Regions from separate parts of the Homo sapiens genome. Here region 2 is linked to region 1. The links come from fine-mapping of genetic effects on gene expression. A gene starts in region 1. The other region holds a variant in brackets. All regions are shown on one strand. Distances are between the middles of the regions. Region 1 holds the start of CTSS (cathepsin S). Region 2 overlaps SETDB1 (SET domain bifurcated histone lysine methyltransferase 1).

The links. PIP is the estimated chance that this variant, and not a neighbour inherited with it, causes the effect.
Region 2: its variant is the best candidate, but not a certain one, in a credible set for the expression of CTSS in whole blood (TOPMed, PIP 0.56).

What each region holds. Positions count from the first base shown.
Region 1 is chr1:150,763,366-150,767,759 of GRCh38, forward strand. It overlaps CTSS (cathepsin S), which reads right to left and starts at 2,413. Exons shown (of 8, transcript NM_004079.5): 1 at 2,333-2,413; 2 at 1,273-1,399. The coding sequence starts at 1,398. RefSeq lists enhancers at 503-592, 1,304-1,353, 2,284-2,428, 2,287-2,431 and cis regulatory regions at 2,356, 2,359.
Region 2 is chr1:150,961,789-150,966,129 of GRCh38, forward strand. SETDB1 (SET domain bifurcated histone lysine methyltransferase 1) reads left to right here. Exons shown (of 22, transcript NM_001366418.1): 17 at 342-370; 18 at 799-931; 19 at 1,186-1,351; 20 at 1,742-1,953; 21 at 2,207-2,295; 22 at 2,459-2,949. The coding sequence ends at 2,576. It overlaps CERS2 (ceramide synthase 2), which reads right to left. Exons shown (of 11, transcript NM_022075.5): 11 at 3,398-4,341. Among named protein-coding and RNA genes, the nearest start is that of CERS2, 11 kb to the right of the region's middle. RefSeq lists enhancers at 2,993-3,137, 3,630-3,774 and cis regulatory regions at 3,065, 3,701. The variant T/C (reference allele first, on the strand shown) is at 2,639.

The DNA of each region.
Region 1 (4,394 bases):
CTATTGCATAGCATGGTGACTACAGATAATAATAATAATGTATTTTATATGTCAAAATTACTGAAAGGGTAGATTTTAAATGTTCTTATCACAATGAAAGGATAAGTATGTGAGGTGCTGAATAGGTTAATTAGCCTAATTTAATCATTCTGCAATGTATATTTGTATCATAACATCACATTGTACTCCATAAATAGACACAATTATTATTTAATTATAAATAAATAAAAATAAAACTTAGAGTGTATGACCTAAGAGTGTCATTTTTATACAAAATAATATGTCAAATAAATAAATATATGATGCTAGCTTACAAACAGAAATATTACATAGTTACAGGACTTAGTTATTTAAAGCAGTAGGGTTAAGGTCTTAACATCAGCAAGTGTGCTTTGAAATAAAAACAAAAGTACAAAATGGGAAGTGATAGTCAAGAAACAATATCTGGCCACACTATGTGGGTATTAACGCCTTTTCGCTCCTCAGCCATCCCAAATGTGGCCCTTCCTCAGGAGCTTGTGCTGATTTGCCCTTGGCCTGAGACCTTCACTCTATTATGTATTTTGCTTGCTCCCTGGCTTCCATCAATTCTCTGCTCAAATGGCACCCTTATCCGTGAGGCCTTCCCTAACCCTCCTGTCATATAGATAGACTTCTTACCACCACCACCACCCAGGGCCCTTCCTACTCTCCATGCCTTCTGTTATTTTTATCTACAACACTTATCACCATCTAGCATACTACATATCTGCTTGTTTATTTTCTTATTTCCTGTCTCTCTCACTATAATATAAGCTCCATAACAGGAATTTTGTTTTGATTCCTGCTGTATGGTACCAAGAACAGTATCTGGCAAGAAACAAGTACATAATATTTATTTATTTATTTTTGAGATGGAGTCTCACTCTGTCACCCAGGCTGGAATGCAATGGCACAATCTTGGCTCACTGCAACCTCCGCCTTCCCGGCTCAAGTGATTCTCTTGCCTCAGCCTCCCGAGTAGCTGGGATTACAGGCGCCCACCACCACATCCAGCTAATTTTTGTATTTTTAGTAGAGATGGGGTTTCGCCATGTTGGCTAGGCTGGTCTCGAACTCCTGACCTCAGGTGATCCGCTCACCTTGGCCTTCCAAAGGGCTAGGATTACAGGCGCGAGCCACCACACCCAGCTTAAATATTTACTGAAAACACTGCCTGTAAGAACACAATTTTAAGAGGTAGAAAACAGTACTCCTTTAAAAGCATATCGCTCGAGTGGCAATCCAATCTACCTTTTCCTTGTATTGTTTGCCATAGGTTTTCTTCCAGAGATGCCAGTGGTGATCCAGGGTAGGATCTTTATGCAACTGTGCCACTGCAGAGGAGCACACCAAGAGCACACAAACCAGCCGTTTCATTCTGTGTAAGGAAAGGTAACATAGGAAGTGTTGCTATTAGCTGCATATGTTGTGACCACATGTTTTCATAAGAGAAAATAACAATGCAAAGTCTATCAAAGGGACAGACTATTATAAACAGAATTATACAGGAAAATTCCTGGGATATATAGTCACAGGGAACAGCTGCAGATTTATGTCAGAAATACTACTTCCAATGCTTAGTAGCACTTTAAAAAGTGATTTCCAGGAATTTCCCAATATCTGGTAAACCAAACACATCTAGAGGGTTAGAAAACAGGGACTTTCCAGGATTTGCCAACAAATCTAATCAAAGGAAATCTCTTTCTCTCTCTCTCAAAAAAAAAAAAAAATCATCCTTAAGAGAGACAAACCTCTGAAAAATCAGTTTATCTCCTGAATTTTTGAATACATGGGCTCTTCTTAACTGACCTGTTTAAATATCCACAGTCTTTACAGATAGTTAAAAGACAATTCTCATCTATTGCTTTCACATCTTTAGGTAGGTAATTTTCCTTTTTACGTTTTTTTTTTTTTAATGATCAGACATCTGTTTCAAATGAGGCAATTAACTACTCTTTAAAATGCCACTTCTGTATTTAATTCAAGAGACATCAACAGAAATTCAGCGACTAGCTCCCTCAAACTGGATTCTACTTTCTTTTCCATTTCTTTTTAATTGAAAACATCTGGAATTTTAAACATGTAAGCCTTTAAATTATATTCCAAAGAAAGCCATGTTTCAGTCTCAACTTAGATGCTTAGATGCTCAAGCAGACATTAACTTTTTAAAAATAGAGAAGAGGCAAATTGAACGACACGATTTTTTAGTTTACTTCCTGAAACCAAAGATTTAAAACCTAGCAGGCAGAACAAGTTACAAACACAGAGTGTTTGAAGACCAAATGGGAGAAAAAGAACAAAGAGTACATACGTGATAGAACCAGCAGTTGCTCCCACAGTAAGAGTCCTTGAATTAGTGGGCTCTCTTCTAAGATTTCAAAGCAACAAGGAGATTTCAGTTCAATTGACTTGAAAAGAAATTGGAACTTGTCACATGAGGTACTCAAAATGAGGAAGTGAACTTTCATTTCAGTTTCATTTAAAATCTAGCTAGTACAGTCACCTCTAGTCATTTCCCTATGGTCTTGGGGACAAAGTGGATACAGTAAGCCATCAAGAAGAGCCCTTGTCTGAGCCCAGTGGCTCATGCCTATAATCCCAGCACTTTGGGAGGCTGAGGCGGGAGGATCACTTGAGGCCAGGAGTTCAAGACCAGCCTAGGCAATATAGTGAGACCCTGTCTCTGCAAAAAAATTTTTTTTAATTAGCTGGGCATGGTGGTGCATGCTTGTAGTCCCAGCTGAGGGGGAGGGTGAGGTGGGAGAATTGCTTGAGTCTAGGAGGACAAGGCTGCAGTGAGCCATGATTATGCCACTGTGTTTCAGCCTGGATGACATATCAAGACCCTATCTCAAAAAAAAAATTAAATTGAATTTTAAAAACACCAACTTTTACATGGAAAACATTTAGTTATAAAGAGATTTAGATAAAGCTCCCCAAATCCCAGCTCCTTGTATGATTTCCTAGGAAAACCTGTCTTACTGCTTTTAACACAACTCATTCATGATCTGATATTGTCTGGTTCTCACTCAGCCATTCCTTCGTTCATCAAACTCAAAATGTCTTTATTAATATATACTATATGTATAGTTTAGTAATATGCGTGTGTGTGTGTGTGTGTGTGTGTATGTGTTAGTATATTCATGGAAAAAAGGATACACTCAAATATATCCAATTGAGAATGATTACCTGGGTGGGGTGGGAGCAAGACGAACTATCATCTTTTAAATTTGCATTTTCCTAATTACTAATGAGGTTGAGGATCTTTTCACACATTTATTGACCGTTTGAATTTTCTGTGAATTTCCTGTTCATCTTTTTTGCTCATTTTTCTATTGTATTGTTGCATTTTCTTAGTGATTTGTGGGAGGTGTGTGTGTGTGTGTGTGTTGTGTGTTTTCCGAGACGGAGTCGTGCTTTGTCTCCCATGCTGGAGTGCATTGGTGCGATCTTGGCTCACTGCAACATCCACCTCCCAGGTTCAAGCGATTCTCTGCCTCAGACTCCCAAGTAGCTGGGATTACAGGCACCTGCCAGCATGTCCAGCTAATTTTTGTATTTTTAGTAGAGACAGGGTTTCACCATCTTGGCCAGGCTGGTCTTGAACTCTTCACCTCGTGATCCACCCGCCTCAGCCTCCCAAAGTGCTGGGATTACAGGTGTGAGCCACCGTGCCCGGCCAAGGTGTATGTGTTTTAAAAATATATTCTGGCTTCTAATCTTTGACAGTTATATACCCTTAAAAACATCCTCCCTTAGTCTTCCACTTGTCTTTTATTTTATTTTTTCTTCCTTTGCATAAGCCTATGAAATTCCACTTGTCCTTTAGTCTTGTTTATAGTGAGTTTTTCTATATGAAATTTTTTTATGTTGAGGTAGAACATTTTATTCAGCTTTTCCGTATAATCAATCTATACTGTTTTTGTATAAGAAAATTTTCCTCATCCAAATGTAATAAAGATACACTCATCTTATTTTTATACTTTCAGAGAGTGTTTTATTTATCTTTTCTATGGCTACTGCTTTTAGGTGTTTAATTCACCTGGAATTTAGTTTTGTGTATGGTATGACGTAGGGAGCTTATTTTCTTTGTTTTCCAATTTTGATTCTACCTCTATTGTACACCAAATTCTCATACATAGATAGGTCAGTTTCTGAGCTCATGAAGCTGTTCTTTTTATCTTTTGCTACTTCAGTATCACACAGTTTTAATTAAAACAGCTTTGTAATATGTCTCCACGTATGGTAAGGCAAGTCATCTAGGCCACCCTATCTTTGTTCTTCTTTTTAAACATTGTCTTTGTATTTTGTACTTGTTAACTCTTCTTTATATGAATTTTTTGAATCAGTTTATCAAGTTCCCTGAAAAACTC
Region 2 (4,341 bases), 200 kb after region 1:
TTCCTTCTACTAAAGTAGAGAAACAAGAATTGATTTTAAGTATCTCTTTGATGATTATGCTGCTTTCCACATTACAGATGGTGAAACTGTCCCTGGTTGATGTAATCCTGCTCGTGGTGTTTTCCATGAGCATTAAGCCCCATCACTGAGAAGGCTTAAAGGCTCCAGCCAGGGAGTGTAGTGAGGATTTCTGTCAAGTTGCAGAGTGGTTTACCCACCCCACTTTAGAATGTGTACCTGTCACTGGCTGATGTTATCTGTGGAGGTCATTTGAAGTCTGATTATTGGACTTGTTACCCGAGGCTGTGAAAGCATTTAACCCTTCACTTGTTCTTTTCCAGGACACTGACGACCGAAACAAGATGTCAGTGTAAGTGCCTTTTGTTTTGTTTTGTTTTGAGACAGAGTCTTGCTTTGTCACCCAGGCTGGAGTGCAGTGGCGTAATCTCAGCTCATTGCAACCTCCCCCTCCCAGGCTCAAGAGATTCTCCCACCTCAGCCTCCCTAGTAGCTGGGACTACGGGTGTGCACCACCATGCCTGGCTAGTTTTTGTATTTTTTGTAGACACGGGGTTTCACCATGTTTCCCAGACTGGTCTTGAACTCCTGGGCTCAAGCGATGCTCCCAAAGGGGATCCTCAGCCTCCCAAAGTGCTGGGATTACAGCCATGAGCTACCGTGTCCAGCCCAGTGCCTGTCTTTTTGACCTGTCTCCAAATCTGCCTTCTCTCAAACCTAGGCTAGAAGCCTAAGAAACAGCCAGTAACCTGTTGGCTTCATTCCTTCCCCTCCCATTAGAGTTACTGAAAGCTCTCGAAATTACGGTTACAATCCTTCTCCTGTGAAGCCTGAAGGACTTCGCCGCCCACCTAGTAAGACTAGTATGCATCAAAGCCGAAGACTCATGGCTTCTGCTCAGTCCAACCCTGATGTAAGTCACCTCAAGCTTATTCAGAGTCTAATAAAGGAAAATGGGCCATTGTCACCTCATCAAGTCCTTCACTATAATTACTGTTAGGTCTTCTCCTACTTCTTTAGCCTTGACTTCCTGCCTTATTTTCTTTCATCCAGCATCTAATCTTCCTCTTGCCACCGCCCTTTCCTGCCAAACCGTGGGTAACAGCAAGGACTTAAAGGAGCCCTTCCCATTTACTTCTCTTACTTCTTACCCTCCTGCTTCCCCAGGATGTCCTGACACTGTCCAGCAGCACAGAAAGTGAGGGGGAAAGTGGGACCAGCCGAAAGCCCACTGCTGGTCAGACTTCGGCTACAGCGGTTGACAGTGATGATATCCAGACCATATCCTCTGGCTCTGAAGGGGATGACTTTGAGGACAAGAAGAACATGACTGGTAGCCTGGAAAAATTTTGGGAATGGTGGGAAGAAATAGTAAGAAACTTGGGATAGAGCATTTTTTAAGGAAGCTAAAGAAGTAGTGGGTAAAAATTCAGATCCTAAGAATTGGAGCATCTCTGGGAGGGCTTTCTGACTCCAAGCTAAACTATTGTTTGACACATCCTCTCTCATTTCCATTTTTTTACTCTTTCCCCTCAGCTCCTTTGTCTAGCAGATCTAATTATGCTTGAAAAAAAAACCTGCTACTTAGGATCTTTGAGTTCCAGCTTATTGGTGTTTCTCAGCTGCAATGTTGGGAGAGAAATAGGGGTAGAATGTCCATTCATGATAGAATGTCTGTTCATGAGTTGGGATGGGTCCTGACCCCATTCTCCCTCCTGTCCAGGTCCAATGAAGCGTCAAGTGGCAGTAAAATCAACCCGAGGCTTTGCTCTTAAATCAACCCATGGGATTGCAATTAAATCAACCAACATGGCCTCTGTGGACAAGGGGGAGAGCGCACCTGTTCGTAAGAACACACGCCAATTCTATGATGGCGAGGAGTCTTGCTACATCATTGATGCCAAGCTTGAAGGCAACCTGGGCCGCTACCTCAACGTGAGACCCCTCTCCCCACCTCTAGATGCTGGATTATCCCATGGTCCTCAGATTTCTTTTAACATACTCTATAAGCCCTTTTCTTGTTATAAACTCTTGATCTCAAAGGATCTTAAAGAGGTAGCTTTCTTTCAAAGCATCTATTATAATGGGGAGGGTCAGATGGCATCATTTTTCTTCCAACTCTCACTCTCCCTGCAAAGCCAGGTTCAGTTTCCCTGGTTCTTATTTGATCCTGTCCTTAAACCTACAGCACAGTTGCAGCCCCAACCTGTTTGTCCAGAATGTCTTCGTGGATACCCATGATCTTCGCTTCCCCTGGGTGGCCTTCTTTGCCAGCAAGTAAGGAGTCAGGAAAGGGGATGACTGGGGAGGGGCAAGGACCACTGAAGTTCTAAGGGCCCCTCCTCCATTCATGATCCAACTCCACCTACATATTCAGTAACCCCAAGTGCCTGGGTTATCTGCTGTCTTTGCCACACACCATCCTTTTCTTCCTCTTCAGAAGAATCCGGGCTGGGACAGAACTTACTTGGGACTACAACTACGAGGTGGGCAGTGTGGAAGGCAAGGAGCTACTCTGTTGCTGTGGGGCCATTGAATGCAGAGGACGTCTTCTTTAGAGGACAGCCTTCTTCCCAACCCTTCTTGAACTGTCGTTTCCTCAGGAACTGGGTCTTCCTGA[T/C]TGTTGAACCCTGACCCGAAGTCTCTGGGCTAGCTACTCCCCCCAGCTCCTAGTTGATAGAAATGGGGGTTCTGGACCAGATGATCCCTTCCAATGTGGTGCTAGCAGGCAGGATCCCTTCTCCACCTCCAAAGGCCCTAAAGGGTGGGGAGAGATCACCACTCTAACCTCGGCCTGACATCCCTCCCATCCCATATTTGTCCAAGTGTTCCTGCTTCTAACAGACTTTGTTCTTAGAATGGAGCCTGTGTATCTACTATCTCCAGTTTGTATTATTTCTTGAAAGTCTTTTAACAATATGATAAAACTAAGATTGTGGTTTTGTTTCTCTCTCTCAGCCCGATACTCCCAATTCTGGATCTTTCAGTGAGGTATTATCCCCATCCTCCCCTGTGGGCTGCTGTCATTCATCTTCTACCTTGTCTACCTTTGCTTCTTGCATGTGAATTTTTTTAGATGGAGTTCTCGCTCTGTCACCCAGGCTGGAGTGCAATGGTGCAATCTCGACTCACTGCAGCCTCCGCCTCCCGGGTTCAGGTGATTCTCCTGCCTCAGCCTCCTAAGTAGCTGAGATTACAGTCGCCCGCCACCACACCCAGCTAGATGTATTTTTAGTAGAGATGGGGTTTCGCCATGTTGGCCAGGCTGGTCTCAAACTCCTGACCTCTAGTGATCCACCCTCCTTGGCCCCTCAAAGTGCTCAAATTACATGCATGTGAAATTTAAAAAAGAAAATATTACATAACTGCAAGGAAGGCATAAGAAAGACTCTCTTCGTTTATTTAGTTGATCCCCCTTCTCAATTCCTAATAGTCTGACACTTATTGCCATGTTTTATTTAATATTTTTTATTTAATCTTTTAATTTTTAAAAAAAACCCATTAACAGTACATTTTGGTCTAAAATGGTCCCTCTGCTGAAATGCTAGGTGCTAGCCGTAATTCTGGCTTTAAAACCAAAACCCCAAATATTTAATAAATAAAAATTAGAATTAGTTGCCATTCTACTCCAAACCAGCTAGCCTAGCTGAAGAGAAGAGGGAAGGGGGAAGAGGCCAGAGAAAGGAGGAGGCAGTCAGATCTTAGACCTGTCGCTACAGGGACAGCTGAAAGAAGTAGCACTAAGAAAGATCATCCGAGCAGTCCCCAGTACAGCCCCCACTTTTTGGCAGAGGTAGGGTAAGGGTTATGTGCACCCTCCTCCTACCCTCAATTCATTTGTGTCATAGAGGGAGAAAGTTAAAAGCTCAGCTTTGGTTTCTGGCCCAAGTTAGGGAGCTTAGAAAGGTTAGCCTTGGTCCAGCTTTGGCAGAATGAGGCCCACAGATGGGACAATAAGGCACAACCCTGGCTCTGGAGGTCAGGGAGTCAAAGGCAAACAGCTGGGGCCAAATTCTCAGAATAAGGAATGTGAATTGTAACCCCTACCCACAGAGAGCTGAGGGAGGGCCTCAAAAGCAGTAGAAAGGATGACTTGGCGGGTAGGGAGGAAAATACGACCGTCCCCCTCTAACAGAATATAACCAACGTCCCCCTACCTGGGGATAGGCTGGTTAGAATTTGGTTTAAAGGCAACTGGGTGACAAGCAAGGAGGGAGGATGCAGAGAACTCTCCTCTCACTTTCTCCTTTTTCCCCAGAGCTTAAAGTGACCCTATAGCGCAGGGAGCGGGGTAGTTCCTTGGCTTTATGCATTAATCTGGGA